Linked DNA regions of Homo sapiens. Changing the gene in region 1 together with any one later gene gives a genetic interaction. Each region holds a gene or a part of one and is shown in the gene's direction. Other genes may lie near its edges.

The links. A genetic interaction does not mean that the proteins touch.
Region 2: changes in ZNHIT6 (region 1) and SRFBP1 together harm fitness more than expected from each alone (negative genetic interaction), as found in Homo sapiens cells (one large-scale study listed by BioGRID).

The regions. Positions count from the first base shown.
Region 1 is NC_000001.11:85,649,434-85,652,933, reverse strand, and holds part of ZNHIT6 (box C/D snoRNA protein 1), read left to right. Parts: 3' UTR 1-3,500. UniProt on the Homo sapiens protein: Required for box C/D snoRNAs accumulation involved in snoRNA processing, snoRNA transport to the nucleolus and ribosome biogenesis.
Region 2 is NC_000005.10:121,960,509-121,964,774, forward strand, and holds the start of SRFBP1 (serum response factor-binding protein 1), read left to right. Parts: upstream 1-1,466; 5' UTR 1,467-1,524; coding exon 1,525-1,560; intron 1,561-4,266. UniProt on the Homo sapiens protein: May be involved in regulating transcriptional activation of cardiac genes during the aging process. May play a role in biosynthesis and/or processing of SLC2A4 in adipose cells.

The DNA.
Region 1 (3,500 bases):
ACGTTATGGCAGCTCTGTATACAGTTTGATCTCATGTACTGAAAAAAAATTCTTAATTTTATTGGAGTTTATACCACTGTGAAACTGCAATATGACTGTAAGAGAGTAAAAAGATTGTTACATCTATATTGTATGTGTGTACTTAATGGTTAAAAAGCAATGATAAAACTGGACATTAATGAAATTGATTTTTAGTTACAGTTGGAATAAGTTTTTTACCAAAAAGAAACCAGAGACGTTAGTTAAGGAGACTTAAAAAGATCTGAAATATGAAAAGAGAATGAGAAGATGAGCAGAAGATAAATTTGTGGGACACAAGTATAACTTGGGGTAGAAACTGGAGAAGAGAATCGAAAAACAATAATGCCAGAAGGACCCTTGGTATGAAAGTACTAATGGAATGTGATTCATAGAAAGTTCATAGAAAGTGAGTCCTTGCAACTTGAGAAACATACATACATATATATTTATAATCTCTAAAGCAACATCAGGAATCTTCTAATATATGATAAAGAATTTGTGTAGAATTACGTTGTTCACAGTATTATTGGAGAGACAAATAAGATTTCAAGGAATTCATTTATAATCAAAAGTGAAATGTGTCTTCTTGAAACCAGCAAGAAATAGATGAATTGAGTGAAACGTGTTGTTATTAGGAGAAGTGGGATAACGTATACAAAAAGAACTTGCGATCTGAATATGATCTGAATATGAGGGTGGATAGGAATTTTTTGACAGTGAAATCTGTTATGATGTAGTCTCATTTCCAAGAAAAGTCTTGAGTTCCATCCCCCCTTCTGAATTTAAATTGAAACCTGGACAGAAAACAAACTATCCTGTAGTTTCCACTGCTCAGGAGGAAAAAAAGAAATCTATATTATCTAATGCATCTTTGCCATCTTTATTTTCTAGAATTCTATTAGACTTTTCAATTATAGGCTATTAGGAAAGAATATAACTCTTAGAATTCCCCTAAATATAATTATCAACTCATTTGATTAATATGCATATTTTTTCCCGTAAGATTTACAATACACGTGTGTTTTAGTGAATTACCAATGGCTTGGAGAGAATGAAATTGGAATAACTAACTGAAAACCCTAGATGTTTGTAGCATTGAGACCCAATATCTTTTTGGAGGCCCTCTCCATGTTAGCTTATTGTCAAATTCTGGTGTGTAAACAAACTCCTTGACCCATGTTAAGTTCAGCATCCTGCATTTTGTTCATGAATCACATTTTAAAAGGAGAAAAGCTCCACCTGGTTTTCTTTATTTTTTTAAACAGTGATTTCAAAGAGAAGATAGGCCTTTCATAATTGCTAATTATACATATAGGATTAATAGTCATAAATTATAGTAAATAAAACTTGTACCTATTCCTTTTATAAATATGAATTGGCTAGGCACAGTGGCTCACAGCTGTAATCCCAGCACTTTGGGAGGCTGAGGCGGGCAGATCACAAGGTCAGGTGTTTGAGACTAGCCTGGCCAACATGGCAAAACCCTGTGTCTACTAAAAATACAAAAATTAGCCAGGCGTGGTGGCAGGCACCTGTAATTCCAGCTACTCAGGAAGCTGGGGCACGAGAATCACTTGAACCCTGGTGGCAGAGTTTGCAGTGAGCTGAGATTGTTCCACTGCATTCCTGGGCACTGCCTGGGTGACAGAATGAGACTCTGCCTCAAAAAAAAAAAAAGTTATTAAAAATAGATATTTAAGATTCCAAAATGTAGTTGATCCAGTTTGTTTCCCTGTAGCAAGTAGTGGGATTTGGGTTTCATGACATATAATTAAAATGTTAATCACATAACTATAATGCCAACAATTTTCTTTATACATTTTTGTTTAATTATGTTGACATATACTTTGTGTTGTACCTTATTTCATGTTACTAAATTTTACATAAAGATGCTGGTCTATTTTTATTTAATCATATACTGTTATGGTTTGAATATAGTTTGTTCCTACCAAAACTCATGTTGAAATTAGATTCCCCATGTGCTAGTGTTGGGAGGCAGAGCCTAATGGAAGGTGTTTGGGTCATGGGGGCAGATAGATCCCACATGAATAAACTAATGCCCTCCTACTGGGGTGAGTGAGTTCTCATTCTTGCTGTCGTGGGAATGGATTAGTTCTCACAAGCAAGGGTTACTAAAGAGTCTGGCTTTCTTGATTTTCTCCTTTTTGCCTCCTGCCTTCCCATGTGATCTCTTTGCACATACCTACTCCCCTTTCACTTTGTACCAAGAGTGGAAGCAACATGAGACCCTCACCAGATACAGCTGCCCAATCTTGAGCCTTCCAGCCACCAGAATCATGAGCCAAATAAAACTCTTTTTAAAAATAAGTTACCCAGTCTTAGATATTCTATTATAGCGACACAAAATGGACTAAGCTGTACTCTGTTGCATTAAAATGTGTTGTTTATATGCAAGTGACAAAAACTCAAAATAGTGTCAGCATGAAGGGCAGTTCATTGGCTTATATACAGGGAAGTCCAGGCAATGACTGGGTCCTGGGTCCAAACGTCAAAAGCAGTCATCTTGCCATCCTACACACTTGGCTCTGATTATTTTCTTCTTTATGGATTGGTTTTCTTTTCAGATTTTCCCTTTGGGGATATTCTGTATGGGATGAGGAACAGTGAGGTGAGAGGATGGTGGATAACAGCAATTGACATTTTCAGCTTACCTTAGCATAACAAGGCTGAAAGCTTTTATAAAGCAAGCTATGTAAAATTTTGGAGAAGTACTTTTATTTTGCCCAGATTGGATCACATTCCGTTCCTGAGCTAATCAAGAGAGGAATTCACCCAAAGGAGGGGGAAATTTTTAGAAGAAAGCCAGAATGTAGGGAGCAGGTGAGGAAAGGTAGTTACTGGGAATACGAAAGTAACACATTCATTGCACCCTGTTTGAATTTGAGTAGCAAGAAGTTTCTGATTTGTACTAACAGAAGGAGTAAAGTTCAGATTTAATCTGCAAGTCTTGATTGTTTTTAACTAGAGATTTTAATCTCTTCTTCTTATTATTGCTGCTTTGAGTTGCCATTATAGGTTTTTGGATTTTTTTTTTAATGCCATCCATTTTTATTTGACATCATGTTGTTGCTAGTTTGAGCAGATGCACATAGCATATGTTTCCATTACCAATTTGGAAATTTTTCCCAGTGGCATCAGCATTTGAGAGATACTGATTTTGAAATTAGAGTACTAGGGGAAAATGCTTCAAAAATGAAGACTACTTAAATAAAAATTGGCTTTAAATAAACCTTTGGGGATCTGTACTTGACTAAAAAGTATTTTCTTTAAACTTTGGTCTTTGAAAACTAAAGTGTGTGTGCATGTGTTCATTAAAATGACCTATAACATGAACATTTTCCATACTGGAGTGTGATGTACTGTACTCATTTTGAACTTTAGAACCAAATGCATCCTTTAGCATTTGATGAGCTGCTATATAATTCTATTTCCAGTTTTATTTTCTTGCCAAATAAAGT
Region 2 (4,266 bases), on another chromosome or scaffold:
AATTAACAAACACCATGATGAGTCAAGAGACGCTATGGAAGAAACTTTTTTTTTTTTTTGAGACGAAGTTTCACTCTTGTTGCCCAGTCTGGAGTGATCTTGGCTCACGGCAACCTCCGCCTCCCAGGTTCAAGTGATTCTCCTGCCTCAGCCTCCCGAGTAGCTGGGATTACAAGCATGCGTCACCACGGTCGGCTAATTTTGTATTTTTAGTAGAGACGGGGTTTCTCCACGTTGGTCAGGCTGGTCTCGAACTCCCGACCTCAGGTGATCCGCCCGCCTAGGCTTCCTAAAGTACTGGGATTACAGGCATGAGCCACCACCCTCCGCCGGAAGAAACGTTTTTCCTGCATTTTGAATAAAGGGGCCTGGATTTTCATTTTGCACTGTACCCCAGGTATTATGTAGCTGGACTTGAAGTCCTGTAGCAGTGGACAGTCCCAGGCAAGTGACTCTGGGCGAGGCACTTGGTGCCTCTGAAGTCACTTTCCACATCTGTAAAATAATAGTTCAGAGCAGAGTAGGGTGGCTCACTCCTGTAGTCCTAGTTATTTGGAAGGCTGAGGTGAGAGGATGGCTTGAGCCCAAGAGTTTGAGGCTGCAGTGAGCTATGACTGTGCCACTGCACACCAGCCTGGATGACAAAGAGAGACTGGGTCTCTAACAAAATAATATTAATAAAAGGAAAATAATTTCTATCTTGTTGGATTTCTGTGGAGATTTGGAGCTAATTTATGTAAAGCTCTTGGACCACCATTTGACACATTTTAATGGTCAATACTAGAAGGTGTTGACAATTATATATTACCTAATTCAAACACACTCCCTTACGTCTCCTATGCTTGCCGGCTAATAAACAGCCATTCCCACAGGCAGTACCAAATGTGTATCCTGGTTTTGCTTCAAATGTTTATTCCCTAAATTTAAACCCTTCTATAGTGTGCAGGAAAAAAATGTCCGCACCTCAGCTATAATGTCAGGTTGTAACAAAAAACTGCGAGGATTTAAAAAGGTGTGCTTGTTAGAAAAGCAGAAATCTTCACAAATACTAGATTTAAAAAAATGGAAGCAAAAAATCGTTCATTCAAGTGATCATTTCAGAAGAGCTCTTTCACCGCCGTTCAGCGCCCCCCTAGCCATTAGAGAGAAAAACCAAGGCCGGTACAATGCGAGCGCAGTGTACCAAGGGAACACACACACACACACACACACACACACACACACACACACACACACACAAACCGAATCTTGAAAAACTAGACGTTGCCCAGCTACCAGCCCCCGTCTGGTTTCCATAGGAACGCGCAATTCCGTTGCGTAGCCCTCTGCGCCGGTAGTTGTTCTGTCTCAGTTCCGGTTTTCCCTTCCAAGCGTCAATGTTTCTTGTTCCCAGGCGGCAGCTAGAGCAGAAGGCGGATGAGTTTTGGACAGAAGAGGCTTCCGTTGAGGGGCGTGGCGACGCAGCCGCGGTCTGAGAGACCGGTTCACGTGCAGGCAGCGGCGGATCATATTCCTTCATCTACCATGGCTCAGCCGGGAACTCTGAACCTCAATAACGAGGTGAGCGCCGAGGAACCTATGGGGCTGACTTTAAGGGTCCTCAAAACCAGCTCTTTTGAGACGCGTGGTCGGAGGCGGGCATAGAGGGTGCGGTTGGAGGAACTTTCGTGGTGGGCCCAGGCGGGTTTCCCGCAACTTGGAGTTTGGCAACCGGTAATTTCCCTTTTCGGTCTCCAGGTGACTAAAGTGAGAGACATGTGTCAGGCCCCACGAATTTATGTCTGTGGGACTTTGGGAAGAACCTTTAGCCTGTACGTTCAATATTCTCGTCTGTAAAGCGGAACTCAAGATAGTTCGTCCCAGGGTTGTGAGATTAACTGAGATACGTAAAGTATTTGCAAGTGCCTGACCCTTAATAAACTTTCAGTACACATTACCTGCTCTTTATTGCCTGTCGAAAATGAAAGAGAGAAAGTAAGAGCTGTAGCTTCTAAGAAATTGGTGGTCTTGAATGAGACTGTATGCTCAGTACTTCGTTTCCTCTTCCAGTTAGTGTCCTATTTCTTTGCTTCCGTTTACAGCAGAACTTCAATAAAGAGCTGTTTATACTTGCTATCCTCAATTCTTTTTTCTGCTTTTTCAGTCCATTCTCATCAGACATTTGTTCTCACCACCGTCACTTCCATAGTGTGCGGTGTCGACAAAATACCATTTCTACCACTTATCCCCCTCTGGTTTCTGCTTCTATTCAACAAAATAATGTCATCCAAAGTCTTAAAGTAAGCTGGAAACATAAGGATCGAGTAAGGACCTCACAGTTAGATACAGAAAGGAAATTCTTTATCCCGTTTATGAGCAAGTCACTGTTTAGATTACACACAGTAGTGTAAGGGATATTTCATATTTTCTAGTAACCTATACTCAAGTAAGAGAGCTAAGCAACACTCACCTGTGTTACAGAACAATGTGTGAAGAATGCCTCCAAAACCTAGTAATGCAGAAAAGTTTCCAAAGGCGGCAAAATGAAATGGGTGATACTTGTCCTTGGTCTTTAGGGATCTTGCACAGGAATTGCAGTCAGTGATTCAGGAAAGGGGAAGAAGTCATTCCAGGCAGAGGGACTGGTATAAGCAGGAAAGGGCTAGTAGCAGAAGAACCCGTGGGTAATACAGGGATAAGTAACTCTTCACTGATGGGAACTTGTGAGATGAAGAAGGAAATAAAACTGAAATATATTCTCTGCTGCCAGATTAACGAGTCAGGATTTCAGTTGACAGTGGAGTACAGGATATGCTGAAGAGGGAAGCTGAAAGTAGTTACTATTTACTCATAAACATACATTAAGCTTGTGCTTTGTGCCAGAAAGCGTTTGGTGGGCTATTTTGCATTAGGTTACCTGTGATGTATGAAAGATCAGAGTAATGTCCCTGGGATTTCAACCCCAGGGAGCTTCATATCAAATTTTGTAATGACTTTGATGATGGAAATGACAGGGGATGAGTCATTAAAGACTCTTTTCACACTTAGCTAACTTTTGTTCTTCTTCAAAACAGTTAAAATTTGACCTTTAGGAAACCTTCATTAACTCCTCTCGGTCTGGGTTAGGTGTCTGTTCTTTGTGCACCCAGATTGCTTTCTCCTCTGGAAACACTTATGTAACTGTTTCTGTCTTCCTGTGTTTATGTGTCTATCATGTGTAGCACATATGTTTACTAGGTGATTACATGAATTTGTGAAAGCAGGAACTACACACATCCACCACTGAAGTCTAGTGTGTTCTAATGTGAAGGAGATAAAAAGGACAGAAAAAAGTGGAGATGATGGAGGATATTATAATTTAAAATTAGTGGGAAAAAAAACCCACAAAAGGAAAGAGAGATTTATCTACATAAAAATTGAATAACCTACCAAAGAAAAGAAATGACAACCAACTAGAAAAAAAAAATACAGCAGATATGACAAAGGGCTAATGCCCTTAATAGGAAATACCTCATAGAAATTAAAAGAAACCATCTCAGAAAATAGGCAGAAGAAATGAATTAACTTCTTCAAGGAGGAAATGTATCTGAAAAATAATTTGAATTCGCTTTCAATCTTTTCAATTCTTTTCCATCACCACTAGAATCCTAGTACAGCTACTGTACTAGCTTCCCAACTACTTACATTGACTCTTCTCAAACTTTAATCTTTTTTTTTTATATGTATACTTTAAGTTCTGGGGTACATGTGCAGAACGTGCAAGTTTGTTACATAGGTATACATGTGCCATGGTGGTTTACTGCACCCATTAACCTGTCGTCTACATTAGGTATTTCTCCTAATGCTATCCCTCCCCCTTTCCCCCCACCCGACAGGCCTTGGTGTGTGATGTTCCCTTCCCTGTGTCCATGTGTTCTCATTGTTCAACTCAAACTTATGAGTGAGAACATGCAGTGTTTGGTTTTCTGTTCTTGTGTTGCTTTGCAGAGAATGATGGTTTCCAGCATCATCCATGTCCCTGCAAAGGACATGAACTCATCATTTTTTATGGCTGCATAGTATTCCATGGTGTATATGTGCCGCATTTTCATTATCCAGTCTATCATTGATGGGCATTTGGGTTGGTTCAAAGTCTTTGCTGTTGTAAACAGTGCCACAATAAACATACATGTGCATGTGCCTTTGTAGTAGAATGATTTATAATCCTTAGGTATATAGCCAATAATGGGATTGCTGGGTCAAATGGTATTTCTATTGCTAGATCCTTGAGGAATCACCACACTGTCT